4 linked regions of the Homo sapiens genome follow. The protein of the gene in region 4 interacts with the protein of the main gene of each other region in a biochemical or structural test. Each region holds a gene or a part of one and is shown on either strand. Other genes may lie near its edges.

Region 1 (6,700 bases), on a different chromosome or scaffold from region 4:
GGCCCAGCATGAGAAAATGCTCTGTGACACCTGGTGTATCGAGGTGAGACTCGGGGCTGCCAAGCTCAGGTGAGGGCTGGAGGTGCAGGCCCAACCCCTCCTTCCCTCTCCCCAGGCTGCAGCTCGGATCCGAGAGGGCATGGCCGCCCTGCAGTCTGACCCCTGGCAGCAAGAGCTCTACCGCAACTTCAAAAGCATCTCCAAGGCCTTGGTGGAGCGGGGTGGTGTGGTCACCAGCAACCCACTTGGCTTCTGAATACTCCCGGCCAGGGCCTGTCCCAGTTATGTGCCTTCCCTCAAGCCAAAGCCGAAGCCCCTTTCCTTAAGGCCCTGGTTTGTCCCGAAGGGGCCTAGTGTTCCCAGCACTGTGCCTGCTCTCAAGAGCACTTACTGCCTCGCAAATAATAAAAATTTCTAGCCAGTCATGCTTTGCTCCTGTGTGACGGTTCTTTCCCCCTGCTGCCTGCCTCCCTCCCAAAGAAAGGAGCCAGAGGCGTGGGGAGTTTGCCTCTATTGCTTTATTTGGTGTTTTATACAAGTGACTAAAATAAATAGAGTAACAAAGGCAGCTACATGGCCCAAATCTCCCAGCTTCCTCAGGCTGCTGTCTAGGATGCCTAACCCCGGGGTACCGCTGACCACCCCCAACCCTGCAAAGGGCAGGGCTGTGGGTAACTGGAGGAGGAGGTCACATTCTGGGGTTAGAAGGGGCCCAATGGATGGGAATTCTTCATATAAAAGAGGAAATGCCTATTAAAAAAGTCCCAAAAATGTAAGAAACTCTATTTTAACCCCCAAAAAGGCTTATAAAAAAACAAAGCTAAAAATAATCAAAGGTCCCTTGTCTACCCCTGAGGGAAGGGGGAGGAACCAGGCACTGCTGGTGAGAGTCACAGTGGCCACAATCTCCTGTATGGCAGCAGCTGGTAGGCTGAGCCCAGGCACTGTAAGAGCAAGCACATGACGGCCAGGACACCCAGTCACACACCAGGAGCGCCCGGCCCAGCCTGGCCCCACAGTGGGCTACATAACATCCACAAAGAACTCGCTGGGATTGCCCATGGCCATGTGGAAGCTTTGGCGGCTGGCTGTCAGTTCTGGGGGCACAGAGCCCAGGTCTCTGACTGGAGGGGCCCCCGGAGGCTGCACTGCTGGAGGGACTGGAGGTGGAGGTGGGGGCATCATGACCACCATCATGGGGTTGTAGGGGAGGGCCATGCCAGGGGGCGGTCCATAGGGATGGAGCCCTGGGTGGGCTCGGAGATTAGGGGCACCCCCAGTTGAGCCTCTGGATGGAGGAGGGCCCCCATCGCTAGTCCCACTTGCTTCCCCACCCCGCCGAAGGCTGCCCCCTCGGCTGGAGGGCTCAGACTCACTGCCACTGCCGGACTTGGACTCGGGGGCCCGCTCCTCGGGCCTCCCCGTGCGCCCTGCCCCCCCATCACTCCGTGTCGACCCACTGCTCCGGCTGCCTGTGGAGGGAGGGGAGGGGCAACTGAGTCCTCACCCAGGCTCCTCCCTGGCTCCCCTCTCATCCACCCTCAGATCCTGGCCGTACAGGTATGTGGGGATGACTTACCCTCACTATGCTGGCTGCTGGCACTGCCCCCACCATAGGTGTAAGATGAAAGCTCATGGTAGGGTGGAGGCTGCGGGCTGTAGGGGTGTGGGGCAGGGTATTGGTAGGAGAAAGTGGGCAGCAGGGGCCAGGGGGTGGCCCCAGGCAGAGGAGCCAGGGTATCCTGGTCTGAAGCCCCACTGGAGCCATCGTTGTCATTGAGAGACAGGTTGACTAGGTCTGGAAAGCAAGGGAAGAGAGGAAGAAATCACTGCTTCAAGAGGCTAGGGCCCCAAGACACCGAATGGAGAGGAACTGGGAACAGTTCTCCCAGACCCACCCACGATGGGGCTCAAAACAGGGGTTCACAAGGGTCTCTGACAAGAAACTCCCATCTACTTCTGCCATGAGGGCAGGGGCACAGCCACTAGCCCACGTCTTTGCGGGACTCAGGTAAGAGGTGCACCTTCCCCCGGTGGACACAGTCCTGCACCTGGCACATGGCTTGTCCAGCAGCACATGGGTGGACGTCAGCCCCCATCCTCGGCCAGTGCAGGACCTAGTGCGGGACACACACTGCTCGACCATCCATGGTGGCCCTGGCTGCGGTTTCTGGGCTAGGTCTAGGGTTGGAGAGGCAGAACAAGGTAGGCAAAGCCACACTCCCAGAGTTGGGGCAGGGGGACTTACAGCTCTCACAGCCACCACTGAGGTCTCCGAAGACGTAATAGCACTGCTCAGAGAAGGTGATCTTGTTGACGGTGTGTCGGATCAGGCCTGCTTTGAGCAGCCCGCTGGCATACTTGCGGGCCTCCCGCCGCTCAGGAAAGCCCTCCACGTGATGGTAGAGCCAGTCAACCACATCCGAGCCTGGGAGCACCCACAGTGGAAAAAGGCCTCAGGTTCTTCTTCCAACTCCTGCTCTCGCCTCTGCCTGTGCCATTCCTGGCTTTGGTCACCACCTCCTCCCCTTCTCCAGCCACCTGCCCAGGACCCAGCCATACCCAGAAAGGCATTAGGGATGGTGATCTTGAGCCACATGCGGTCCCGGACTTCCAGTCCAGACTCTGGAGCTGCCATGGCCTTGGTCACCGATGCCATGTCCGTATGGACGGAGAGACCCCGGCCTTCACAGCCTGGCAGAGGAGACAACGGGTAACCAGAGTCAGGGATCGCTCCCACAAGGGCAATGGATCAGACCACTGCGGGACAGCCTTCTGCTGGGAGGGTGGGATGAGGTGGGCTGGCGGCTCACCATCAGGCAAAGACGATCCAGATGTAATGGTGCTCATGGAGGAGGAACCTGGATAGGCTGGGAAGGTGCCAGTCAGAGCCGCGGAATGGGACACCCAGGCAGCAGGGTCAATTGGCTGGATGGGCTCATCTGGGACAAAGATGGCACCAAAATGACCCATTCTCAGTCCCCAAAAGCCAGCCCAGTCCCTCCCTGACTCAGCCTCCTGTTCCACCTCTGCCTGGACCCTCCTCCCACCCATTCCCCATGACCACAGGCCCGGCCCCAGCCTCCTGGGCAGCCCCCACCCCCAACTTCAGGCCCCTCCCTGAGTGTCACTCACTTCGGGGGAGAGTGAAATAGGCCTGAGGAGAGGGATCCCAGCACTTGGCCACAGTCAGCACAATGGGGCTATGGGGAAGAGAAGTCCAGTCAAGGGCGCAGGGGAAGAGGAGGCCTCAGGAGGGCGGGGGTCTGAAGCAAGGATGGATTAAGAGACACAAAGAGGGGGAGAAGCAAGCACATCGCGGCTGGGCTAGAGAAGGTGAGGGTGGAAGGCACCACAATGTGGATGACTCATCAACATGGAAAACTCTTAAAAACATACTGCCAAGTGAGACAAGAGAGTACACGCTGTACAGTTCCATTCACAGAAAGTCCAAAAACAGGTAAAACGAAACTGCAGTGTTCAAGGATACGTGCAAGGGTGGTAACTATCCAGTGAGGCAAAGCTTTTCTTTGTTATGGTGATGGCCAAAGAAGTCAGGAGAGTGACTACCCCTGGGGCAGTGAGGCATTTGGGAGCAGGAAGGGACATCTGAGGAGGAAGTTCTAGGGTATCAGCAATCTCCTATTTGATGATCTAGATGGCAGTGACATGGATATTTACTCTAGTATTATTTGCTATGTCATGCATTTGTTTCATGTACTTTGAACGTTATGTCTTAGCACTTTTTTTTTTTTTTGAGACGGAGTCTTGCTCTGTCGCCCAGGCTGGAGTGCAGTGGCGTGATCTCGTTTCACTGCAACCTCCACCCCCCAGGGTTCAAGTGATTCTCCTGTCTCAGCCACCTCACTAGCTGGGACTACAGGCATGTGCCACCATGCCCACTTAATTTTTCTATTTTTAGTAGAGACACGGTTTCACCACATTGGTCAGGCTGGTCTCGAACTCCTCACCTCAGGTGATCCACCCATCTGGGCCTCCCAAAGTGCTGGGTTTACAGGCTCGAGCCACCACGCCCGGCTGTCTTAGTACTTATTAAAATTCCAAAACAAAACATGAAAGAGAAAAAAAAAGAGGACTGAGGACCGGCAACCTGCTTGGCAACTCACCCAGGCTTGTGCACAATGTCCCTCAGCACCCGCACAGCGTCATCGTTGCTCATGTTCTCAAAGTTCATGTCATTCACCTGGAAGCGACGGCAAGTGGGTCAGAGACACGGTGGGAGAGGCTGAGGGCCCCCGTGCAGGGCAGCTCAGTGGCCCTACCCCAGCACACCTGCAAAAGCATGTCCCCTGGCTCAATGCGCCCGTCGGCCGCCACAGCCCCACCCTTCATGATGGAGCCAATGTAGATGCCTCCGTCTCCCCGCTCATTGCTCTGGCCAACAATGGAGATACCCAGGAAGTTGTACTTCTCTGTGGAGAGAGGCCATGTGAAAAGAGGAGCCCCTGCCACAGGACGCCCGGAACCCTAGAGACCAGGCCCTCCCCACGCCCTAGCCACAGGCTCTCCCCATACCCATGTTTAGCGTGACTGTGATGATATTGAGAGACATTGTGGAATCTGTGACGCTGCTGAAGGATGACGTCTGTGGTGGGAAAAGGAGCCAGAGTGCCCTTCAATAACCCAGGGTCAACCCTGGGGTGCTGCCGGTGTCCTGGCACCGCCCAAACCAAAGCCCATGCCCCACCTTCTCCCAGCACCAGCCTTCCTGTAGGAACCCCTCACCCTCTCCAGGCGGGGTGGCCTCTGCTTCCTTCGCCGCCGGTGGCGCTTAAGGAGGCGGGAGGCACTGCTCTGCTCCGTGGAGCTGCTGAACCTACCAGGAGGTTGGGAAGGAGAGCAAACGTAGGCCAAAGTGGTCATGGGGCCAAGAGAAAGAACAAGAGGATTGACTGGAAGACGAGACGGGGCTGGGTGCGCTGGGGAGAGCTGTGCGGAGCCACACCTGCTCATGGTGTCCTCCTCGTCCGAGTCCCCCAGGCTGGTACTCTCCAGCTCGCTGGTCATGAGGGTAGAGGAGCTCTCGTATCCGGCCAGGTGGCGCTCCAGCCTTGAGGGGCCACCAGTCCTGTGGCCCCCAGCTACATATGGACAGGAAGCTCAAGAACCAAGCTTCCCCCTGCTCACCCCACCAAGGCTGGGGTCTGGCCCAGCCCTTCCCGGCCCCCAGGCCTGCCCCTCACCGCCATGCTCACTGCTGTCTCTCCTGCGAGGCCGCTCCCGCCTCAGTGACACTACTGACTCGGTTTCTGTCTCAGGCTCCAGATTCTCATGGCTGCTGGACACATTAGGGCTGGACAGGCAGAGATGGTTTCCAACCCACATCAGGAGAACAGGGCTCCGGATCCTAGGCGTCCCCTACCAAAGGCCTGGGTTCCCTCCTCACCTCCCTCCCCTGCAGTCAAGAATCTGAAGGACTCACTGGAAGGATGGAGGCCTTGAGTCCCCAATGCCGCTGGTCCTCTCGGGTGGCAAAGGAGGTAAAGGTGGGGCTGGAGGCGCCAGTTCTGCCCGAGGCTCATGGACTGGAGGGGCCATCTCGGGTTGGGGATTATCTGAGGACACCAGCTAGAAGGGTGCAAATGATAAACAGTGGCTCACTTGGGAGTCAGGGTGTGACAGGTGGCAGTAAGTGAAAGAATGAGAAAGGGTCTCAGAGAGCTGGAGAAGAGCAAAAAAACCTAGCAAGTATTAGAGACTCCAGAAGGAGAAGGCTGAGGGCCTCTCGCCGGCTCTCCAAACAGACAGGAGGTAAAGAGCCAGGGCTGCTAACGCGCGGCCTGGGGAGGATACAGAAACAGACTGAGGCTTGAGGGAGCTTGGCAATGCTGAGGGGGCCTGGTCCTCGGTGTCAGAACCTCTTACCCAGGATACCACCCTTCCGTTGAAGCAGGGGAGGCGGGCGTTGTCATCTGAAATTTCTTCCTTCACCACCCTGCCAAGCGACAAGGTAGAGGTCAGTGAGCTGGACCAACCATCCCCACCCCGACCCCCATCAAACTTTCTCCCAATCTTCACCTGGCTCCAGGATGTTGACTTTCTCCTGCCCTGTTCAGGTCTTCTCTTACATTGAAAGAACTCACTCCGACACCTAAGAAATCTCCAAACTCAATCCCCTTTCCTTATTTCTCCTCTCCCTAACGCACCCTCAGGGGCACAGTGCTGCTCCAAAGACTTCCTTGAGTCTGACTCAAACCTCTTAGTCCAGTTTCAAAAGCAATCCCGCACGCTGATGCGGCTGCCTGAGATACCTATCTAATGAGACTGGCTGGTGGCCTCCTCTCAACCCCACCCCTGTTCCTTACAAACCTTCCAAAAAGGTCAGGCACGGTGGCTCACACCTGTAATCCCAGCACTTTGGGAGGCTGAGGCGGGCGGATCACCTGAGGTCAGGAGTTCAAGACCAGCCTGGCCAGCATGGTGAAACCCCATCTCTACTAAAATACAAAAATTAGCCGGGCATGATGGTGGGTGTCTATAATCCCAGCTACTCAGGAGGCTGAGATGGGAGAGTCGCTTGAACCCGGGAGACAGTGGTTGCAGTAAGTCGAGATCGCGCCACTGCATTCCAGCCTGGGCGGCTCAAAAAAAAAAAAAAAAAAAACCTTCCAAAAAAGGCTTTGGTCCTCATCAAAGCCTCTACTCTTATACTTTCCTTTAGTTTTCTCTAATTCATTTC
Region 2 (7,024 bases), on a different chromosome or scaffold from region 4:
TTGAGAAAGATGGTGGAGAGGAAGTAGGAAGAAAAGGTCTGAAGGAATGCACTTCTTGCCCCCCATGCCCCTTGATGATTTCTTTGGTGTGGGGGGCGATAGCTGGTTTCCTTGCAGTCTCCTGTTTCAGCCCATTTTTGGATGTCTCCTGAGCGTAATTATACCACCACGATTTACAGCCTGGCAGGGAACCTATATAGTAGGAAAGTAGCAGTGTGGGGGTAGGGAGAGAAGAGGATGTGTAACTAATTGGCCGCTGCCTTCCACCACCTCGCTCGGTTCTTTTGGAGACACCGTCTCTGGTTGTTGTTTGGAGTCAGTGATATTTCTTTTGTGACGGGTTGGTAGGAGAGCTGACTCCCAAGTTATGCAGGGAGTGAGTGTTTTGCACCAATGCACTTAATAATCTGCTGGGTGATTATGTTCTGAAACTCTGACTCATTCATTGTTTCTCTTCTGATCCTTTGCTAAGGGTTGTGCAAACCTCCCCAGGAGCCTAGAAACTGATTTACATGACTTTTGGATCCTTTAGGAATGTGTCCCAGTAAAAAAACCTTGCAGTTAGCCCAGATCCTATGGAATAGTCTCGAATAGTGCGGCCATTTGTTTGCAAAGTCAGGTAGATTGGTGATCTGTGCTGCCCAGAGCCTGGCAACCTTTGAGGTTTCCACCTCCAACCAGCTGATTATTTAGATTGTCTGAGAGCTGGGGCTCTGGTGACCTTAAAGCGTGATTTGCCCTAAAGGAATATCGGTTTAAGTTCTCCCTGGTGGAGGAACAAACAGCTCAGATTACACGGGTTTCCTTGTTGGTGGGGGTTACTCGTCTCACCCTGTTGCACAGCCCTGGTGATCCTTTCATCTGTGAACCAGTGGCCCCTGCTGAAGGCTAGAGCTGCTTGTTTTGGAAAAGCGTATGCAGGCAAAAGGCCGCAGGCACCGCTCCTCAGCGCTCATTGGCCGCCCTGTTACTACCCGGAAAAGGAGGAGGGGAGGAGCTACCAAACAGCTGATGGAGTATGTGACAAGAGAGTGTGTTTATATACAAAAGAGGTGGGGGCTGGGGAGGCCCTCTGAGTGGTGTTACAGGAACAAGTGTGTTTTCGAGGGGTAAAAAGAGAAGAGGAAAACCTGACCTGTTAGAGTACAAGAAATGTTTAGAAAAATTAAGGTTAAATCAGAAAAGTAGATCGGATAATAATGGGGACCGGCATACACCATATGTACAATTTTGTAACTTACAATACCAAGAGTTTTCAATGATTCTTCTTTTCAGAGGGAGTTCAGTAATAGGATCCCCCCCTTATTTATTTTTACATTTTTTGTAGAGACCGAGGTCTGACTAGGTTACCAGGCTGGCCTCCCAACTCCTGGCCTCAAATCTTCCTCCTGCCTTGGCCTCCCAGAGTGCTGGAATTACAGGTGTGAGCCCAGTGCACCTGGCCCAGGGCATGCCACTTTAAATGCACTTAACTGACTCATTTGCAGGGATTCCAAAGTATGGCAGAAATGTCAGCTTCCCTTAAGAAAGCGTCAAGTGTGATAGAAAGGGACGGTGTCTTACATTAAAACGGCCTGAGTTAATTTTACAGAATCGTTGGTGTCTGCTTTAGGGTTTCAGAAGCTTTCTCTAACAAATTCAAAACCTCAGATGTGGCCAAGTGTGGTGGCTCACACCTGTAATCCCAGCATTTTGGGAGGCTGAGGCGGGAGGATCACCTAAGTGTAGGAGTTTGAGGGTCCAGTGAGCTAAGATCATGCCACTGCACTCATGCCTGGGCAACAGAGCAAGACTCTCTTAATTAAAAAAAAAAAAAAGCTGGCACAGTGGCTTATGCCTGTAATCCCAGCACTTTGGGAGGCCAAGGCGGGCAGATCACCTGAGGTCAGGAGTTCGGGACAAGCCTGGCCAACATGGCAAAACCCCGTATGTACTTGTACTAAAAATATAAAAAATTAGCCAGGCGTGATGGTGCGGGCTTGTAGTCCCAGCTACTTGGGAGGCTGAGTCACGAGAATAGCTTGAACCCATGAGGCGGAGGTTGTGGTGAGCCTAAATTACACCATTGCACTCCAGCCTGGACGACAGAGCAAGACTCTTATCTCAAAAAAAAAAAATCCTCATATGTTTGGGTACTTGCTTTGTGCCAGCATTGTGCTGGGAGTTTAGTAGTGAAAAATTCAGTATGGGTGGTCATGGTGCTTATGCAATTAGTTAAAACTTTTTTAGTCGGAAAGGACAGGCTGTGTTAGGTCATTGCTGTGTGTAGTGCCTTTTTGAGTAACTTGTATTTACTTAGAGTGGACTTTTCAAGGAATAGAAAGGTTAAAATGAATTTTGTGTGCTAGGATGTATATGGGGATCTGTACACCTGTTTAAAAAAATTTCAAAACTAAAATATTAAAATATGTAGCCATTTGTCTTTGACTTAACTTTGGTATTTTGCTGTTAATCAGTAGTTACTCTATCCCTAAGTTAGTAGTCTTTGTTACTCTTTAATTTGTGTTCAAAGGGTAGACAGTTCCCTAAATCTTTTAACTAGTTCTAGTGTCAATTGGGAACCTGTGGTTTGCCTCTTTATTTCCAGTGGACTCTGTTTTAGTGAGATGATGAGATGAAAGTTGGCACAGCTTTATGGTCTTCAAGCTAAAAGTTAAAGATTTGGCAACTCTCAGTGTTCTGAATTTGTCTTCCCTGCCTAGATTTTGGTGACAAATATAACATACTGGTACTTATTTTGGTTAGGCAGGAACCTACATGAGTAAGCATTCACAGCTTCAGAACATCTGATTCCTGCAGTGCAGTTCTAGTAAATTACACGCAAGCCTAAAAATTCAGCTTTTTGGGAAAAAATGTTTCGCAGATGTGACCCATAAACGTCCCTCCTGTATTTGTGTATGTATGTTAGAACAACCTAAGTTTGTTGGTTTTCTAGTGTTGCAATTTTCTTAGCCCCTTGACCTGCATTTTATAGATATATTTAAACATTGGTATTCTTTTCAGTCTTAACAGATTTGATGGTTCCAAGAATCATTGGATTTTTAGGCATGTAATCCAGACCTTACATTACGTTATAATGTTTGCAACGTAATAGCTTTTTACCTGTAGACCTACAGAGTGTACCTGTTAGTAAAATACTTAAAAGAACTTAGTTGGATTTCAAAAGTAAAAAGATAATTGAGAAAAACATAGGTTACAAGAAGGAAAACCAGTCACCTGTAATCCTAGTTCTTTAAACAGTAGTTCTCAAACTTTAGTTTGAGATTGCACCACTGCACTCCAGCCCGGGGGACAGAGCAAGATTCCATCTCAAAAAACAAAAAACAAATAATCACCTGGAGAGTTTGTTAAAACAGGTTACTGCATACCACTCCTGGAGTTTTCTAATTCATTGGGTCTAGGGTGGGGTCTAAGAAGTTCGCAGATGATGCTTCTGGTCCAGGACCACTGTTTAAGAACTGTTGGCCTTAAATGTTAACCTTATGGCTTTTTTCCTATATCTTTTATTCTCCCCAGGATGTATTGTTTTCAACCTGTTGATCATACTGTATGTGTCTGCCCTGTTTTTGCTTAATATTTTTGCAACTGTTTTTCCCAGTTAAAAATAATGACTAGGGGCCGGGCGCGGTGGCTCACGCCTGTAATCCCAACACTTTGGGAGGTTGAGGCAGACAAATCATGAGGTCAGGAGATTGAGACCATCCTGGCTAACATGGTAAAAACCCATCTCTACTAAAAATACAAAAAAAAAAAAATTAGCCGGGCGTGGTGGCGGGCGCCTGTAGTCCCAGCTACTCAGGAGGCTGAGGCAGGAGAATGGTGTGAACCCGGGAGGCGGAGCTTGCAGTGAGCAGAGATAGCGCCACTGTGCTCCAGCCTGGGCCACAGAGTGAGACTTCGTCTCAAAAAAAAAAAAATAATAATGACTAGGCTGGGCACAGTGGCTCATGCCTATACATCCAGCACTTTGGGAGGCTGAGGTGGGCAGATCACCTGAGGTCAGGAGTTTGAGACCTGCTTGACTAACGTGAAGAAACCCCATCTCTACTAAAAAATACAAAATTAGCTGGGCGTGGTGGCGCATGCCTGTAATCCCAGCTACTTGGGAGGTTGAGGCAGGAGAATCAATTCGCTTGAACCTGGGAGGTGGAGGTTGCGGTGAGCTGAGATTGCGCCATTGCACTCCAGCCTAGGCAACAAGAGCGAAACTCAGTCTCAAAAAAAAAAAAAGTAGCTCATGTAATATGCCATCCCATGGCTGTGCCATTGATTTAATTCTTTGCCATTTTTCTCTGATGAATAAGATTGAAATTAACATCTTTGTGCATAGGCTTTTCTTTGGGTTATTTCTGTTTTCCCGAAATGGGATTCTAGATCAAAGAAGGTAAACATTTGAATTAAAATATTTAATTAAAAATCTCAGAGCCCTACACTCAGCGGGCTCTTGTTTTGTTGTGTTGTGTTTTAGTTGGTATCGTTTTGGCACTGAAATAGCCTGGCATAGTGATTAAAGATGAATTCTAATTTCCTCATTGTTTAAACTTTGATGTTTTTTGTGATAATGGTGATCCTCAATTTAGGCATAATTTTGTATTCTCAGAGTGCATACTGCAAGTCGGTAGGTTAAATATATTTATGAGCAGATAGATCTAACAGGAACTGTAGAATTAGTTTTGGCATCTTGGATTCTTTTTTGTTATTGAGGTATAATTGACATACAGTTAACTGTACATATTTAAAGTGATACTTTTGATAAGTTTTAATTTTATGTATCACCCATGAAGCTTATCCTTATCAAGAGAGGAGACATATTTATCTTCCCCCAAAGTTTCTTGTGGCCCTTTGTAATCTTTCCCTCCCTCCCTTCCAACCATTGATCTCATTTCTGTCACTGTAGATTATTTTACATTTTCTAGAATTGTATATATAAGCGGAATCATTCAGTACATACTCTTTTTGTGTGGGTTCTTTCACTTATAATTCTGAGATTCACCCATGTTATTTAGTTCATTTTTTTTTTATTGCTGAGTAGTATTCTATTATGTGGATATACCACAATTTGTTTATGCATTCACCTCTTAATGCTTGGTGGCATTTGGGTTATTTCCAGTTTTGGGCTATTACCAGTAAAGTTGCTATGAACATTGTATGGATATACGCTTTTTTTTCTCTTGGCTAAGCTAGATCATGTGGTAGGGTTTGCGCATGCGCGTGCGTGCGTGCGTGTGTGTGTGTGTGTGTGTGTGTGTGTGTGTGTGTTTTGAGCGCATGCGCACGTGTGTGTTTTGAGACAGGATTTCACTCTGTTGCCCAGATGAGAGTTCATGGTGTGATCTCAGCTCACTGCAGTCGTGGCCACTTGCCTGGCTAATTTTATTTTTTTTGTAGAGATGAGGTCTCACTGTTGGCCAGGCTGGTCTCAAATTCCTGGGCTTAAGTGATCCTCTGGCCTTGGCCTCCCAAAGTGCTGGGATTACAGATGTAAGCCGCTGTGCCCAGCCATGTTTAACACGTAGTTTGAATTTAATGTTTACTGATGATGGTCCATATTTCACACCCAAATAAAATTGTGACAACGGTTGTTTCACTTGTGTGTTTTGTTTTGTTTTGTTTTGTTTTGAGACGGAGTCTTCGCTCTGTCGCCCAGGCTGAGTGTAGTGGCGCGATCTCGGCTCACTGCCAGCTCCGCCTCCTGGGTTCACGCCATTCTCCTGCCTCGGCCTCCTGAGTAGCTGGAACTACAGGCACCCGCCACCAAGCCTGGCTAATTTTTTGTATTTTTAGTAGCGACAGGGTTTCACCATGTTAGCGAGGATGGTCTTGATCTCCTGACCTCATGATCTGCCCACCGTGGCCTCCCAAAGTGCTGGGATTACAGGCATGAGCCACAGCGCCTGGCCTCACTTGTGTATTTTAAAGGAATCATGTTAAATTACATGCTCTTAAAGCACTGATTTATTTTTTATTATTAACCTTATTTTATAGTATATGAATTTTGTTAATTTTTTTATCAATAAAACAAATTTTACCACAATGATTGTGATACCTTTCACTTGAATAATGATTTAAACACTTTATCTTCCTTTTTTAAAGACAGAATCAGTCTCGCTCTGTCGCCCAGACTGGCTCTCTGCAACCTCTGCCTCCTGAGTTCAAGCGATTCTCCTGCCTCACCCTCCCGAGTAGCTGGGATTACAGGGGCCTGCCACCACACCCAGCTAATTTTTGTATTTTTAGTTAGAGACAGGGTTTTGCCATGTTGGCCAGGTTGGTCTTGAACTCTTGACCTCAGGTGATCCGCCTGCCTCTGCCTCTCAAGTACTGGGATTACAGGTGTGAGCCACGATGCCTGGCCAATCTGGTTTTTTGTTTGTTTTTGTGTTTGTGTTTTTAGACGGAGTCTGGCTGTGTTGCCCAGGCTAGAGTGCAGTGGTGCGATTTCAACTCACTGCAACCTCTGCCTCCCGGCGCTTGGCCTAAAGCATTGATTTCTAGCTGAATTTGGTTAAAGCTGATTTGGTAGCTACTCTTCTCTCCCCACCCCCATTTGAAATTAGTAAATTAAATTTTTATTGTGAAATATTTTTGTTAGCCTGAGCTACATGGCAAAAGCCTATTTCTACCAAAACAGATAAAAAATTAGCCAGGTATGGTGGCATGCACTTGTAATCCCAGCTACTCTGGGGGCTGAGGCAGAAGGATCACTTAAGCCCAGGAGGCAGAGGTTGTGGTGAGTTAAGATCATGCCACTGCAGTCCAGCCTGGGTGACAGGGCAAGGCCCTGTCTAAAAAAAATGTTTTGTGGCCCTTTGAAATTACACTTTAGGAATCTGGCCGGCCATAGTGGCTCATGCCTGTAATCCTGGCACTTTGGGAGGCTGAGGTGGGCAGATCACCTGAGGTCAAGAGTTCAAGACCAACCTGGCCAACATGGCGAAACCCCATCTCTACTAAAAATGCAAAAACTAGCTGGGTGTGGTGGTGCACACCTGTAATCCCAGCTACTCAGGAGGCTGAGGCAGGA
Region 3 (7,024 bases), about 130 Mb from region 4:
CCATTCCCCTCTGTGCTGTAATTAGTGTCGAACTCGTCTTACTGTACAACTGCTTCTTCCTGCTATAGGATAGCGTCTAAAGTCCTTTTTGTCGCTCAAATCCTGCAGGATCATCTTTCCTCGTTCTCTGATCCAAGCCACATTGGTCTTTCAGTTTTTGCAACACTCTGTGCTCTCTCCTGCCACAAGGATTCTTCTAAGCTGCTGCTTCTGCCTGGGTCACTCCCTCCACTCACTCTTCCTCCAGCCCACCCTCAGATCTTAGCCCAAACACTACTTTCCAAGAAAACCCTCTTTGACCCCACTTCTTGGCCTGATTACCTGTACATAATCTCATAGCAATATCTATATATTTTCTAACAAAAAATTCATCATAGTTTTAAACTTCTATTTTTAGTCATTTGATTAACATTTGCCATCCCTATAGGACAATGCGCTCCGTGGGGGCAGAAGTTGTGCCTGTCTTTCTTTACTGCTGTGTTCCTAGCTACTAGCATAATGCCGCATACCCAGTACATACACAATAAATATGTGTTGAATGAATAAACAAAGAAGCCACATTAAACAGAATCTTAGCCACAGTGTCAAAACATATGTATTATATATATTAAATCTAAAATCTTATATTTATTCCATTTCTACCATTCATTTTTAAGATATTAAATTATAGATAGACAGACAGACAGCAAGGGTTTCTCTGAAATACAGCAAGGAGGCAGAACAGTTCTGATCCTTACCTTCGGTGCTCATATCTGGTGTTGGCATCCAGATGTAGGCCAAGCCTTCTTCCCTATATAGTTTAATCATAGTGTCTGGAGTCATGGGCTCTGGGTAGCGGTTACAGCCTGAGGAATTCTGTACAATATCCCATTCAGTCTGGAAATTCATTACAGCTGTAATCCCCAATTCATGCTTCAGTTTGATGGTTACATGTTCCACCTGACGAGGGCAGCTACCCAGCCAGATATTTGGTAGAATTCTAATGAGAACATATGGAGACAACTATCACTAGTGTTGTTCTGATTTGAGGTTTAAGGAGCTGCATAAAACATGTAGTATTAAAATATAACTAACCTTTAAGTCTGGCACAGGAAAAGCTAGATATTTTAGAATATGAACACCAATGTTATTATTGAAAGAAAAAGTACTGGTGTTGCTGCTTTGGGGAAAGCAAGTATTTCAATTAACTAGAACGCCAGGAAATGGACATTTGCAAACCAAATCAAGCAATATATTAAAATAAGTCTACCAAGTTGTACTTATTCCATGAATGCATATATGGTTCCACATGATAAAAATCCATCAATAGACTTCAAATGCTAACAAATTAGAGGTGAAAATTCCTGTAATTATATAAATAAATTCTGAAAAACAAATTTCAGCAGGCATTCCGGTTTAAAAGTCTATGCAAATATTTCAAATAGTATGAGACTTTTAACATATGCTAAAGAACAGAAGCTAAAAAACAACAGACTTCTTTTAATAAGATCAGAATCAACATTAATTCCATTAGTACCTAGCAGTGTTCTATAGGTTTCATCTAATGCTGCAAGGTAAGAAGGAGAAATAGCAATATAGTTTCCTTTTGGAAATTATCATTGAGGTTTATTATAGAAAAAAATAATGAAATGAAAAAGTTAAAAACTCAGAAAAATTTTAATAACCCTTTAGACAAGAACCCAAGGAGAAAAAACATAAAACACGCTTATCTGGCCGGATGCAGTGGTTCACACCTGTAATCCCAGGACTTTGGGAGGCCAAGGCAGGCGGGTCACCTGAAGTCAGGAGTTCTAGACAAGCCTGGCCAATTCTACTAAAAATACAAAAATTAGCCAGGCGTGGTGGTGGACACCTGTAATCCCAGCTACCGGGGAGGCTGAGGCAGAAGAATTGCTTGAACCCGGGAGGCGGAGGTTGCAGTGAGCCGAGACTGCACCACTGCACTTCAGCCTGAGTGACAGAGTGAGACTCCATCTCTTAAAAAAAAAAAAAGTTTATTCTCTCCTGTAGGGTAAGCAGAACTGAAGTTTTAGAAAGACAGTGGTGGATCTTCATTAGGGAACTGGGCAATTGGCTTCTCATGTTAACAATGTTGACAACAACAGCCAAAAGGAAAAATGTAAAAACCAAAAAAGAAGCTGGCGCAGTGGCTCACGCCTGTAGTCTGGCACTTTGGATGGCTGAGGCGGGGATTGCTTGAGGCCAGAAGTTCCAGACCAGCCCAGCCAACATGGCAGAAACCTCGTCTCTAGTAAAATTACAAAAATTAGCTGGGCGTGGTGGCACACACCTGTAATCCCAGCTACCTTGAAAGGCTGAGGCCTAAGAATTGCTTGAACCCAGGAGACAGAGGTTGCAATGAGCCAAGATCACACCACTGCACTCCAGCCTGGGCGATGGGGCAAGAACCTGTCTGAAAAAAAAAAAAAAATTAAAAAAAAAAAAGATTTCGTATAACATTTAGTAACAATTGTATGATGTTAGGCCAAGTTATTTATCAACTCTAACCTGTTGGTGTACTCATCTTTAGAATGGGTCTAAAAATAACTCATAAAAATCTTGTAAGGAATAAATACAATTAATGTACCTGAATTGGACTGAAACCGTGGATGCACAGTAAGTGCAAGCGGATTTCATGTGTAGCTATAGTGATTTACTTATTTTTGTAATTTACTTTGCATTGCATTGTAAAGATTATTCAGTTAATTCTTCATTGTTTCCTATATTCTTCATTTGAATGCTACAGAGTAGAAGATACCCTATTTTTTTGTATGAAAGCTAGCTTTTTTTGTTTTTTGCTTTTTTCCTTTTGGTGGTGGTTGTCATTGTTGATGTTAACAGGAGAAGCCAATTAACTAATCCTCTAATGTGGTCATGACCCATAATCAGTGAAAATTATCTCATAAGATCTGGCACTATCTGTCTAAAGCCTGAGCCCTGCTTCCCCTGCAGGAGAAGAACAACTTTTTTTTTTTTTCTACTTGTGTTCTTGTCTAAAGGGTTATTAGGAATTTCCTTGCAGAAATCCTTATTGAGGATTATTATGGGAAAAAAATGATAAAAGAAAAGTTAGAAATGGCAAAAGACTTAATGGTGATGGAAAGAGAGGCATGAAATCCAAGGCCTTCATCTTATCCCTGGATCCAGATAATTCTTAGATATTCCACTGGACCCAGTGTACTGAGAGAAAGACCTTGAGCAAGGACACTTGCAGGGTGCCCAAGAGCCGAGCTTCATCAGGACCTGGATAGCTGAGTATTCGGGGGAAATGTCACACCCACTTGCTGATTGCCCCTTCCCTCTGGCTGTTGAGTGAGACCTGCCTCTAACTAGATGTCCCATCCCTCTTTCCAGATCTTTCAAAGATCCCTTACCCAGGGACCTGCTGGATGCCTAGTGAGGTGATAGTGCTGGGCTCACGTATGTATACTTTGGGGTTCAACTGAGCACACTAAAGCTCCTAAGCTGGAAAAGAGGGAAGTGGACACTTCCGTTACATAACCAAGAAATAGAAACTATTATAAGACAGTAATTTTTATTTGTTTGTTTGTTTTTTTCAACTGGCAAAATTTTAAAGAGGACTGGTAAAATATTAAAGAGAATTTCATGACAGGCAAGCTAAAATCCAAATACCACTCAGCATTTTCTTGAATATTGCACTCTTTGAGTGGGTACTAGTTAGTATTTCGCTAGTCGGTAAATGCCAAAATAAAATGGCTGGCTGATTTTTCACACAGGATTGCATAAAAGCTCAAGAATAGTTCATAGAGATACACAAAGGGTAAATTAGGACATTTGAGCCTGCAATATAAGAAATCAGAGTCAGCATATCCCAAATCAGAGTCAGTCTATAGAGTCACATGTTGTTGCTAAAAGAGGTGTTATTCTATCATATCCTTCAGCCCTGGCCTTCAAATGTTTTTAAGGTGATAGGGAAACTCAGAACAAGTCAAAGATAAACAGGCCCAAAGCCAGTAGCTTAACACATATATCTCACACATAACATTTCTGATGGAAATAAGCCCTTAAAATATACATCCAGACATGGTGGAAGTCAGAGTCCATATTTAAGAAATGAGTATGAACTAATTTCTGCTACTTTAAAACAAGATGTTCTAAACCTAGAGACAGATAACTAAAGATAAACTCTGAAAACAAACACTATATTGAAAGATAGAAAAGTAAGGTTATAAAGTGATTTGTACTGAATCATTGTATGGGATGCAGAGACAAAGACTGGGCCTGTTGGAAACAAACACATCAATGGATTCTGCTTAATCAGACAGCTAAAGTGCCCTTCATGTGCATCCTATTTCAGTTTGTTTTCCAAAAGTAGGTGATATATTTCTAGTTATAGGATTCACTGGGGGTAACAAGATACATGATATGCTTTCTAAAAAGTAATTAAACTTTTACTCATCCATTCAAAAGAGGATAATTTGATACCATTAAAAATTCATTTTTACTCATCTCATCTCAGTTTTAGTCTTCTTTTGGTATCAATGTTATTTTAAACAATTTTTAACATCAGGATTTTTAGGGTGAAAAGAAGCCTGTTGACATATGAGATTAGAGAATAAAAATTCTCTGTAAGAGTAGTTTTAATGCAAGGCATACCAAAATTCAAAGATATAATGGAATAGAAGTTATAGCTTACAATTATAAGTTATATCATAAAACTTCCAGAGACTTGTTTCATAAATAATCCACTATCAATCATGAACTCAAGAGATTTCTGGCAGCTCCACTATAGACTATTTGGAGGTAAAGAGACGCCAACTAAACCAACAGGGTATTGACACTCAGTCAGCTCAGGACAGAAGTTTTCAAACCTGGCTATGCATTCAAGTCACATGAGGTACTTTTATAAAAACATCTATTACCAGGATCCATCTCAGAGATACTTATAGAGAGGCTTGGGAGTTAGGCCTATAATTCTGTAGGTTCTTTGATTTTTGGTCTGTTTAGAAATTAACTAGATTGTGTAAGCAGCAGATTCCAGAACCACCACCTTGGACCACCAGTCCAAGGTCTCCATATGCATGTAAGAGAAGCTTAATATATAGAGCCCAATATCTTTTTTAAATATCAGTAAAAAATATGGAGATGAGAAAAAATGGGCTTCCTCAGTCTGACATATCTACAAATTAAGGTGAGTTCTTATCTTTGTCCAAAAAATAGTGTCAAGACTACAAATAATTCCTAGAGTGAGAAATTATTTGTTATGAGAGACAATGTATATCCATGTGTTTAATGCACAGTACCTTCTAACTGGTCAAAACTAAATCTACTTCTGAGCCACGACAAATATTTAATATAGTCCTATGCATAAGAATGTACTTTTGTAGAAAAAAAATTATTAACTAGGGTTTTGACTATTTCTGCTGTGCTATAATCAGATTATACATAAATAAAATCTACCCTAGTAGTATTACAACTTAGCTAAAGACCAGGGGAAAGAATAGATGGCTGACATTCTGGAACCTTATTTTCTTAGACTGCAAATCAAAATCAATTTAACTCATTTGAGTGAATCTGGATTTGTGGTTCCAGGTAACCATATCATAATACTACAGTATTTGTTTCACCCATCAGGCTTGGGCCTGTGGTCCAACAGCTACTGAAGCGTATGAATCAGACGCTCAACTGTCAGTCAAAGGAAGCCTCACTGGCACATCAGACAGAATGACCATCCAAGCACTTTGTAAAAATCACCACAGGGTATCGACAGGAGAAGTGGGTGTCTAAAAGACAAAAGGTATTGGGAGACAAGTCCATTCAATGGACTTCACATTACAGCTTCCATCACTAATGGCCATGAGAAATGGCAGAATAACCTTTTCCTAAAGGTGAAAATCAGCATTATTTTGTGTCCATCGAAAGAAAAAAAGATGAGGAAAACCACAGGAATAATGGAACCAGCTTTTGTTTATTTATCACACCTAAAGACTCCAACTGTTGAACTGCAGTGCCCTCTTCCTAGCCATACAAACGGAGCACCATTTCAAAAAATAGAGAAAATCGATTTTGCTGAAGCTCTTAACAAAACCCAGCTAAGAATTTAAAAGGAAAGAAAAAAAAGCACATTTCCTAAGTTGGATAATTGTGTTGCATTTATCTTATTTAATATTTTACGGGCAATTCAATGAGAAATTAAAATATGAACTGGCTCTTAAATAATGAGTAAAGGGAAAAAAAGTCTATCCGTCCTATAATTTAGATCTCATTAGTGGGAAAGCAAGAGAAACATTAAAATCAACCTCTAGTAAGCTCCAGGCTTCAGTAGCACATACAGCTCCTTCTGCTGAAAATTTGTCCTCTAGCATCCAGTGTTAAGTTATTAATGCCAAACTTCTACCCCAAAAGGGTGCTTATAACAGGCTCCAGTTAAGGCTGAATAACTACTCAAAGACAAATTCCAATTTAGAAAGTGATACTAATTAGCTTCTTTATTAAACCATAGTTTTATTATAGTTTTTTATGAGTCATACACTATGTATATAGAGCACAAGTTAATTTCTGTAAGTCCAGTTCATTTCTTACATTTTGGGGATGTACTGTGTAGTTTAGAGCCATATGAAAGCAAATAATTTTTGACAAAATGCTCTTTTATTTTCCATATTATGAAATGCCATATCATTAATTATAAAGGCCTATTATGTTGACTTGTGTCCCCCTCCCCAAACTCCTATGTTAAAGTCCTAACGCTTAGGAACTCAGAATGTGACTGTATTTGGAGACAGGGTCTCTACAGAGGTGATCAAGTTAAACTGAGGTCATCAGAGTAAGCACTGACCCAAAATGACTAGTGTCCTTATAAGAGGGGGGTTTCAACACAGACACAGAGGGAAGACAATGTGAAGATACAGGGAGAAGATGGCTTCAAACAGATGCTGCCACTCAGCCCTCAGAAGGAGTCAACCCTGTGGACACCTTGATCTCAGACTTTCAGCCTCCAGAACTGTGAAATAATAAGCTTCTATTGTTTAAGCCACACTGTCTGTGGCACTTTGTTAAAGCAGCC
Region 4 (7,689 bases):
CTCACTATGTTGCCCAGCACGATCTCAAACTCCTGGCCTCAAGTGATCCCCCCACCTCAGCCTCCCAAAGAGCTGCTCAGCCTACACCTACTCTTTCTGAAAGGTGTTTCAGAGAAAGATTTCTACTGAGTGCTTTTTAAAAAATCAGTTATTGGCCGGGCACAGTGGCTCATGCCTGTAACCCCAGCACTCTGGGAGGCCGAGGTGGGCGGATCACCTGAGGTCGGGCATTCGAGACCAGCCTGGCCAACACGGTGAAACCCTGTCTTTACTAAAAATACAAAAAATTAGCCGGGCATGGTTGGCACATGTCTGTAATCCCAGCTACTCGGGAGGCTGAGTCAGGAGAATTGCTTGAACCCAGGAGGTGGAGGTTGTGGTGAGCCGAGATCAAGCCATTGCACTCCAGCCTGGGCAACGAGCAAAACTGTCTCAAAACAAAAACAACAACAACAAAATTAAAATTAAAAATTATCATCTTTAATCCCTACAGCTCTGACTTTCCAATCACTTCTTATGTGATGTGCTTTTTGCCTTATAAAACATTATATGACAAATTCACCAGTGGCTGGTGGGAATTGGACAGAATTCTATTTATGTGCCTTAAGCATAGTCATTCCGATTTGCAGAAAATAGTCATGTCCCAGATTTATTACTTATGTGTAGCTGTAATTTGTGAGCTGAAAATATGCTTGAAAATCTGTGATTCCTGAACAGTGGGTATTAATAGAAATTTATTTCACTATTGGTGTTAACTTTCGACAACAGGAGGATAATCGAGGCAGATATTTAGAAATGAAATATATCATAAAATATTAAGTTATTTATATTTAAATATGACAAATAATCCTTTATGCATTGAAAATTTGGGAAGTCTAAAAAGAAAAAGAAAAGCAATCAAGTCCTATCACTGGAGATAATTACTGCTATGATGGTGATGTATTTTCTTCTCATCTTTTTTGTCTGCTCATACATGTGAATGTTTTCACAAGGTTGTTGTGATCACATTACGATACAGTATTGTATCTCCACTATCTTTCTTTCTATTTCATTCACCCTTCCTGGAGTTGAGGCAGGAGAATAGGGTCTTGAGGCAGGGAACCTAAGGCTGATTCATGCTGACTTCCTAGAACTAAATTGAAAGGAAAACCTCAACTTTCCATGCCTAAGTAACAAAAGGACCAGAGGCTACTCCCTTTGTAACCTCCACCACCCCACCGCCCCTAGCCTTTTCTGCGTGGCAGAAACATCTGCAACCAATCAAACGTTTGCATAGGAGTGTAACTTTTGTAACTTCACTTCGGCCTCTCATTGGTTGCAGCAAGCAAAAGCAACCAATCAGACTGATTGCGGGCCACTACTTTATTTGCATGGGATGAATACCAAGTGGCCAGTGGGAAACCTCTAGGCAGTATTTGGACCCCAGAAGATTCTGTAACCAGGGCCCTTGAGCCACTGCTCAGCCAGGTCCCACCCTGTGGAGCACTTTCATTTTCAATAAATCTCTGCTTTTGTTACTTCATTCTTTCTCTGCTTTGCTGTGCATTTTGTCCAATTCTTTGTTCAAAAAGCCAAGAACCTGGACAACTTGTAGTCAAACCTTCTACTGGTAACAGTGTCACTAAATATTTTTCAAAAGCAAGATTTTTAAATAGCTGTATAATGTTGTAATGTGGCAGTACAATTATTATTTAGTCTTTCTCCTGCTATTAGAGTCAGCATTCATTCAGCAATTTAAGTACTATTGGGTGTGCTAGCAGATAAAGGTTTATTGATTATTGAAGATAATCCTTTTCTCAGGCATCACAGGTTGTAGGGGTAGGGACTGAACATTGAACTTCATATGGTATGGCTGTCTTAGGGGTACAGGCAGGGAGCTGTCAGCTTATAACTGGTCATTTAAACCACGAGGAAGTGAAGATGGCATTGCTCAGGGAAACAGGTAGGAAGCTAAGAGAAAAAGACTGAAGGTGGCACCCTGAGGAACACTCAATTGCATTGAACTTGAGATGCACTCAAATCTCTAGATCCCCATTTCCAAACATACATCTCCACTCATTTTTGTATGGACTTACTCAAAAAATTCAAAAACAGCCATTCTTCCTCTTGCCACCACATCCCTCACCCCTGAGATGCCAAGAACATGGAGCTTAAAAATTAGAGTGGTGGTCAGAGACGCCCCTGGGAGGAGGGCAAGGCTGGAAGCAAAGCCCATTCTGTGTGGCTTGTTCATCTTCCTTTCCCTTACATCATTGTCAGGTAGTCTGAGTTGTAATTGGATCATTAAACTTGTTCTGGGATTCCTTCTAAACTGCATGTGTCTGGCACATTTGCCCCACCTGCACAACCAGGAGCCCACCTGTCTAAGCACTGACTCCCCCTAACTCATGCTCCCCCTGTGCTCTCTTCTCTGCTGGAACCATCCTGAGCTGGGTCCCCACTCTCCTTCCACTATAGTATGGTACTTTTTCATAGGGCAGCCATTGACCACTTTGGAAACTAGACGTTCTGCTCTTCAAGCCCTTTGCCCCCACAACTCTCAGGGCTTGTTCTAGGTGGAAGCAGGAAAAGATGGGCATGCTAGTCCAGGACCCTCTATAGAAGGAATATCGGAGGGAAGCACAGGGTAAATCCATGGAGGCCCAGCCATGGAGGAGGAAATGATAGTCATAGGAAATGCCAAATGTCAGAGTGAGATTCAAGACATATTTGTTATTAATCAATTATGCAATGGTGTGATTGCATAAATAATGTGATTTTAGTTGGTTGTTTATTTGGGATGGAAATGTAGTCAGAAATTATTAAGTTGGTTATTGTGTCCCAGTACGCAATCTTTGAGTCAAATGACATTTGATTAGAAAATGTTCTTTCTTGTCTTACATTAAAGCTCTTTCCAGGGGCCTCAACAGGGGATAAAATATTGTGTTTTCTCAGAAATCTAGCAAATCAGAAGGTGAATGTTCATGATTATGATCTCTAAAGGAAAAGAAATTCTCTAATACAAGGTTTTGTTAAGCACAATGTTCACATAAGACATTTGAGGGAGAACCCCTTAAAAATAAGAGTTTAGGGCCAGGCACGGTGGCTCATGCCTGTAATCCTAGCACTTTGGGAGGCTGACGCGAAAGGTCAGAAGTTTGAGACCAGCCTGGCCAACATGGTGAAACCTCATCTCTACTAAAAATACAAAACTTAGCCAGGCATGGTCACGGGTGCCTGTAATCCCAGCTACTCAGGAGGCTGAGGTGGGAGAACCGCCTGAACCCAGGAGGTGGAGGCTGCAGTGAGCCGAGATCGCGCCACTGCACTCCAGCCTGGTGACAGAGCAAGACTCTGTCTCAAAAAGAAAAAAAAAAAAAAGAAAGAAAAAGAAAAATGAGAGATTATAATACCACAATGGATTCTTCACACAGATTATGCTATCCCTTGTTTGAAGATTTTCCAACATATGGCAAATTCTCTTTGTTTTTGGTCTTAACTGAGATTGGAAAAACTGAACTTAGTGTCATTTGAGGGAATTATTATAATGCAGTGTTTCTCAAACTTGGCTGTACATTATAATCACCTGGGGAGCTTTTATAAATCCCAGCTGTCCAGACCACACCATGGGCCAATTAAACTTTTCGGGTGCGACCCAGGTGTTTACCATGTGCAAAGAAGTTTGAAAATGACTAAAATAGGTAACTCTGAAGTCAAACTGCCTGGCTTCAAATTCCAGGCCAGCCACTTCCTAGCCATGTGACCCTGGGCAAGATATTTGATTTCTATGAATTCTATCAGAAAAAAAGACAATAAAAATAACATATTTTTGTAGGATTGCTATGAGGTTTAAACAAGATAATCTATGTAAATTATTTATTAATTTGCTGCAAAAGTAATCACGGTTTTGCCATTAAAAGTGATGGCAAACACTGCGAATCCTTTTCACCAACCTAACACAATGGGGCAGGCATATGTGAATTCCATAGGCTGGGCACAGTGGCTCACACCAGCACTTTGGGAGGCCAAGGGGTGGGGAGGAATGTGAACAATTTTCACAAGTTCAAGACCAGCCTAGGCAACATAGTGAGACCTCCTCTCTACAAAAAAATTAAAAAATTAGCCTAGTGTGATGGTGCATGCCTGTAGTCCCAGCTACTGAAGTGGGAGGATTGCTTGAGCCTGGGAGATGGAGGCTGCAGTGAGCTGTGATCGTGCCCCTGCACTCCAGCCTGGGTGACAGAGTGAGACTTTGTCTTAAAAAACAAAAAAATGAAGTTCTATGGTAATTATTATTAACTAACAGCTTTCTTATTTCATATTAATTACTCTGCAAGACACTTCCAGCATGGTTGCCCCATCTGACACTCATTCACCTCGTTGATTTTTTTTTGTTGTTGTTGTTGTTCTATAACATTCATTCATGCACAAATTCATTTTACAAGTATGTATTCATCTAACATTGACTTAACTATGAGTATGACAGAAGACACAAAAGAAATGTACACATCTGCCTCACCTCCCTTGGAGTTTATCTTCTCTAGTGTGTTCGTGTTTTCCGGTTCAGATCATAAGCATCATGAGCTAAGGGACCATGTTTTATGCCCGGACAGCCGTAGCACCCGGCGCTGCGGATTGGAGACACTGCTAGGCACCCGGGCTGGAAGATTGGGTTCTAGTTCTTGTTTTGCCGCTTACAGGCTGGGTGACAGGGAGCAATCCTGTTGTCCTCAATAGGTGTGTTTCCTCATCTGAAAGTGTACACAATCCATCCATGACTGCTGTGACGATTACAGGTCTACACAACGCGCATGTGGATTTGTCTTGCAAACGTCCACCATCAGGCCCTCAGGAAACAGTGCCGCGCGTGCCCACCAAGGGGCAGCAGATCGCAGTGCAGAGGCCCGCGGCGCTCGACGTCAGGGCGCACGTCCCACCCCGTGACCATGACTGTGACCGTGACCGAGAGCGTCGCTGGGGCACGGCCAGGCGGCGCGGCGGGAGTGCACAGGACGCGCCATGGCGGCCGAAGCCTCGGAGAGCGGGCCAGCGCTGCATGAGCTCATGCGCGAGGCGGAGATCAGCCTGCTCGAGTGCAAGGTGTGCTTTGAGAAGTTTGGCCACCGGCAGCAGCGGCGCCCGCGCAACCTGTCCTGCGGCCACGTGGTCTGCCTGGCCTGCGTGGCCGCCCTGGCGCACCCGCGCACTCTGGCCCTCGAGTGCCCATTCTGCAGGCGAGCTTGCCGGGGCTGCGACACCAGCGACTGCCTGCCGGTGCTGCACCTCATAGAGCTCCTGGGCTCAGCGCTTCGCCAGTCCCCGGCCGCCCATCGCGCCGCCCCCAGCGCCCCCGGAGCCCTCACCTGCCACCACACCTTCGGCGGCTGGGGGACCCTGGTCAACCCCACCGGACTGGCGCTTTGTCCCAAGACGGGGCGTGTCGTGGTGGTGCACGACGGCAGGAGGCGTGTCAAGATTTTTGACTCAGGGGGAGGATGCGCGCATCAGTTTGGAGAGAAGGGGGACGCTGCCCAAGACATTAGGTACCCTGTGGATGTCACCATCACCAACGACTGCCATGTGGTTGTCACTGACGCCGGCGATCGCTCCATCAAAGTGTTTGATTTTTTTGGCCAGATCAAGCTTGTCATTGGAGGCCAATTCTCCTTACCTTGGGGTGTGGAGACCACCCCTCAGAATGGGATTGTGGTAACTGATGCGGAGGCAGGGTCCCTGCACCTCCTGGACGTCGACTTCGCGGAAGGGGTCCTTCGGAGAACTGAAAGGTTGCAAGCTCATCTGTGCAATCCCCGAGGGGTGGCAGTGTCTTGGCTCACCGGGGCCATTGCGGTCCTGGAGCACCCCCTGGCCCTGGGGACTGGGGTTTGCAGCACCAGGGTGAAAGTGTTTAGCTCAAGTATGCAGCTTGTCGGCCAAGTGGATACCTTTGGGCTGAGCCTCTACTTTCCCTCCAAAATAACTGCCTCCGCTGTGACCTTTGATCACCAGGGAAATGTGATTGTTGCAGATACATCTGGTCCAGCTATCCTTTGCTTAGGAAAACCTGAGGAGTTTCCAGTACCGAAGCCCATGGTCACTCATGGTCTTTCGCATCCTGTGGCTCTTACCTTCACCAAGGAGAATTCTCTTCTTGTGCTGGACACAGCATCTCATTCTATAAAAGTCTATAAAGTTGACTGGGGGTGATGGGCTGGGGTGGGTCCCTGGAATCAGAAGCACTAGTGCTGCCATTAATGAATTGTTTAACCCTGGATAAGTCACTTAAACTCATCTATCCAGGCAGGGATAATTAAAACCATCTGGCAGACTTACAAAGCTTGGGACAGTTATTGGAGATTAATCTACCATTTATTGAATGCATACTCTGTGCAAGGAAATTTGCAAATATTAGCTTATTTAATCTGTACTATCCAGTGAGGTAATTTCTTCCCCCCCAAGATAGAGTCAAGCTCTGTCACCCAGGCTGGAGTGCAGAAGCATGATCACAGCTCACTACAGTTTCAACGTCCCCCGCTCAGGTGGTCCTTCCACCTCAGCCTCCCAAGTAGCTGGGACCACAAGTGTGCATTACCACACTCAGCTAATTTTTGTATTTTGGCAGAGATGGGGTTTCACCATGTTGCCCAGGCTGGTCTCAAACTCCTGAGTTCAAGCAATCCACCTTCCTCGGCCTCCCAAAGTACTAGGAGTACAGGCATAGCCACTTGCTCAGCCATAATTTTTATTATTAATCTCATTGTACAAGTGAGAAAACTGAGACCCAGAGAGCTTAAGTGACTTCCTCGAGGTCATAGTTACTTACTGCCTTAGTCCCAATTTGAATTCAATTCTGATTCCAAATAAGTTGCGCTTAAATAAGACAACAGATGTGGGAAAAATATGTGAATGTGTAGTGTTGCTATGTGTACTGTCTTTACAAGTAGCTAATTATTTTAGCACAAAGATGTGCAAAGAAAGGAGACTTTATGGAGAGTTCAGGAGAAAAAGGATTTTGTGGTGGCCATCACTTTCATTCAATTTGCGACTGCTCTGATGGCACATTAGATGAAGTTACTGTTGATCCTGAGTTACGTGAATAAGAAAAACAATTGAACTGCTTATTAAAAAAGTAAACATGTCTTTTAACGCCTATATCTTCTCCACTATACAAACTCAGAAAATACCACTTGGTTGTTTGAGAAAGGCCTATATTTGTGTAAGTTCTAAACTATTGCAGAACACACTACATACTAGCGTCAAAGGGCTGATGACGCTCCTGTTACATGTTTATGGGGTTTTTTCGTTTGTTTGTTTGCTTTTAGACATGGTCTTGCTCTGTTGCCCAGGCTGGAGTGCAGTGGATTGATCACTGCTCACTGCAGCCTCGACTCCCTGGGCTCAAGCGATCCTCCTGCGTCAGCATCCTGAGTAGCTGGGACTACAGGTGTGTCACCATGCCCAGCTAATTTTTAAATTTTTCGTAGGGATGGGATCTTGTTTTTGTTGCCCAAACTGGTTTCAAGCTCCTGGGCTCAAGAGAGCCTCCTGCCTTGGCCTCCCAAAGCATTGGGACTATAGGTATGAGCCACTGTGCCTCGCCCACGTAAAGTAAAAGCGAGAGCCTAACTCCCATGCCAGTCCACAAAAACCCATTTTCTTGTCAATGCTCTCATCATATAGCACTAATAGTAAGATTTGGGGCACCCTAGA

What was found.
Region 1: of the proteins of NHLRC1 (region 4) and DVL2, one has a biochemical effect on the other in vitro, tested with the Homo sapiens proteins (one study listed by BioGRID).
Region 2: the proteins of NHLRC1 (region 4) and UBE2H form a complex in vitro, tested with the Homo sapiens proteins (one study listed by BioGRID).
Region 3: the proteins of NHLRC1 (region 4) and EPM2A form a complex in vitro, tested with the Homo sapiens proteins (3 studies listed by BioGRID, with this or other methods).

The regions. Positions count from the first base shown.
Region 1 is NC_000017.11:7,224,842-7,231,541, forward strand, and holds the end of DVL2 (segment polarity protein dishevelled homolog DVL-2), read right to left. Parts: intron 6,354-6,700; exon of another isoform or gene 6,040-6,353; intron 5,957-6,039; coding exon 5,887-5,956; intron 5,590-5,886; coding exon 5,444-5,589; intron 5,315-5,443; coding exon 5,205-5,314; intron 5,103-5,204; coding exon 4,967-5,102; intron 4,838-4,966; coding exon 4,747-4,837; exon of another isoform or gene 4,709-4,746; intron 4,607-4,708; coding exon 4,537-4,606; intron 4,434-4,536; coding exon 4,294-4,433; intron 4,205-4,293; coding exon 4,128-4,204; intron 3,204-4,127; coding exon 3,136-3,203; intron 2,943-3,135; coding exon 2,814-2,942; intron 2,695-2,813; coding exon 2,563-2,694; intron 2,429-2,562; coding exon 2,249-2,428; intron 2,118-2,248; coding exon of another isoform or gene 2,089-2,117; exon of another isoform or gene 2,046-2,088; intron 1,799-2,045; coding exon 1,580-1,798; intron 1,473-1,579; coding exon 1,024-1,472; 3' UTR 501-1,023; downstream 1-500. Other genes in the region: ACADVL (very long-chain specific acyl-CoA dehydrogenase, mitochondrial), read left to right, coding at 1-43, 116-256.
Region 2 is NC_000007.14:129,942,951-129,949,974, reverse strand, and holds part of UBE2H (ubiquitin-conjugating enzyme E2 H), read left to right. Parts: intron 1-7,024. UniProt on the Homo sapiens protein: Accepts ubiquitin from the E1 complex and catalyzes its covalent attachment to other proteins. E2 ubiquitin conjugating enzyme that transfers ubiquitin to MAEA, a core component of the CTLH E3 ubiquitin-protein ligase complex.
Region 3 is NC_000006.12:145,634,508-145,641,531, forward strand, and holds part of EPM2A (laforin), read right to left. Parts: intron 980-7,024; coding exon 738-979; coding exon of another isoform or gene 652-737; exon of another isoform or gene 573-651; intron 1-572. UniProt on the Homo sapiens protein: Plays an important role in preventing glycogen hyperphosphorylation and the formation of insoluble aggregates, via its activity as glycogen phosphatase, and by promoting the ubiquitination of proteins involved in glycogen metabolism via its interaction with the E3 ubiquitin ligase NHLRC1/malin.
Region 4 is NC_000006.12:18,119,916-18,127,604, reverse strand, and holds NHLRC1 (E3 ubiquitin-protein ligase NHLRC1), read left to right. Parts: upstream 1-4,927; 5' UTR 4,928-4,998; coding exon 4,999-6,186; 3' UTR 6,187-7,165; downstream 7,166-7,689. UniProt on the Homo sapiens protein: E3 ubiquitin-protein ligase. Together with the phosphatase EPM2A/laforin, appears to be involved in the clearance of toxic polyglucosan and protein aggregates via multiple pathways.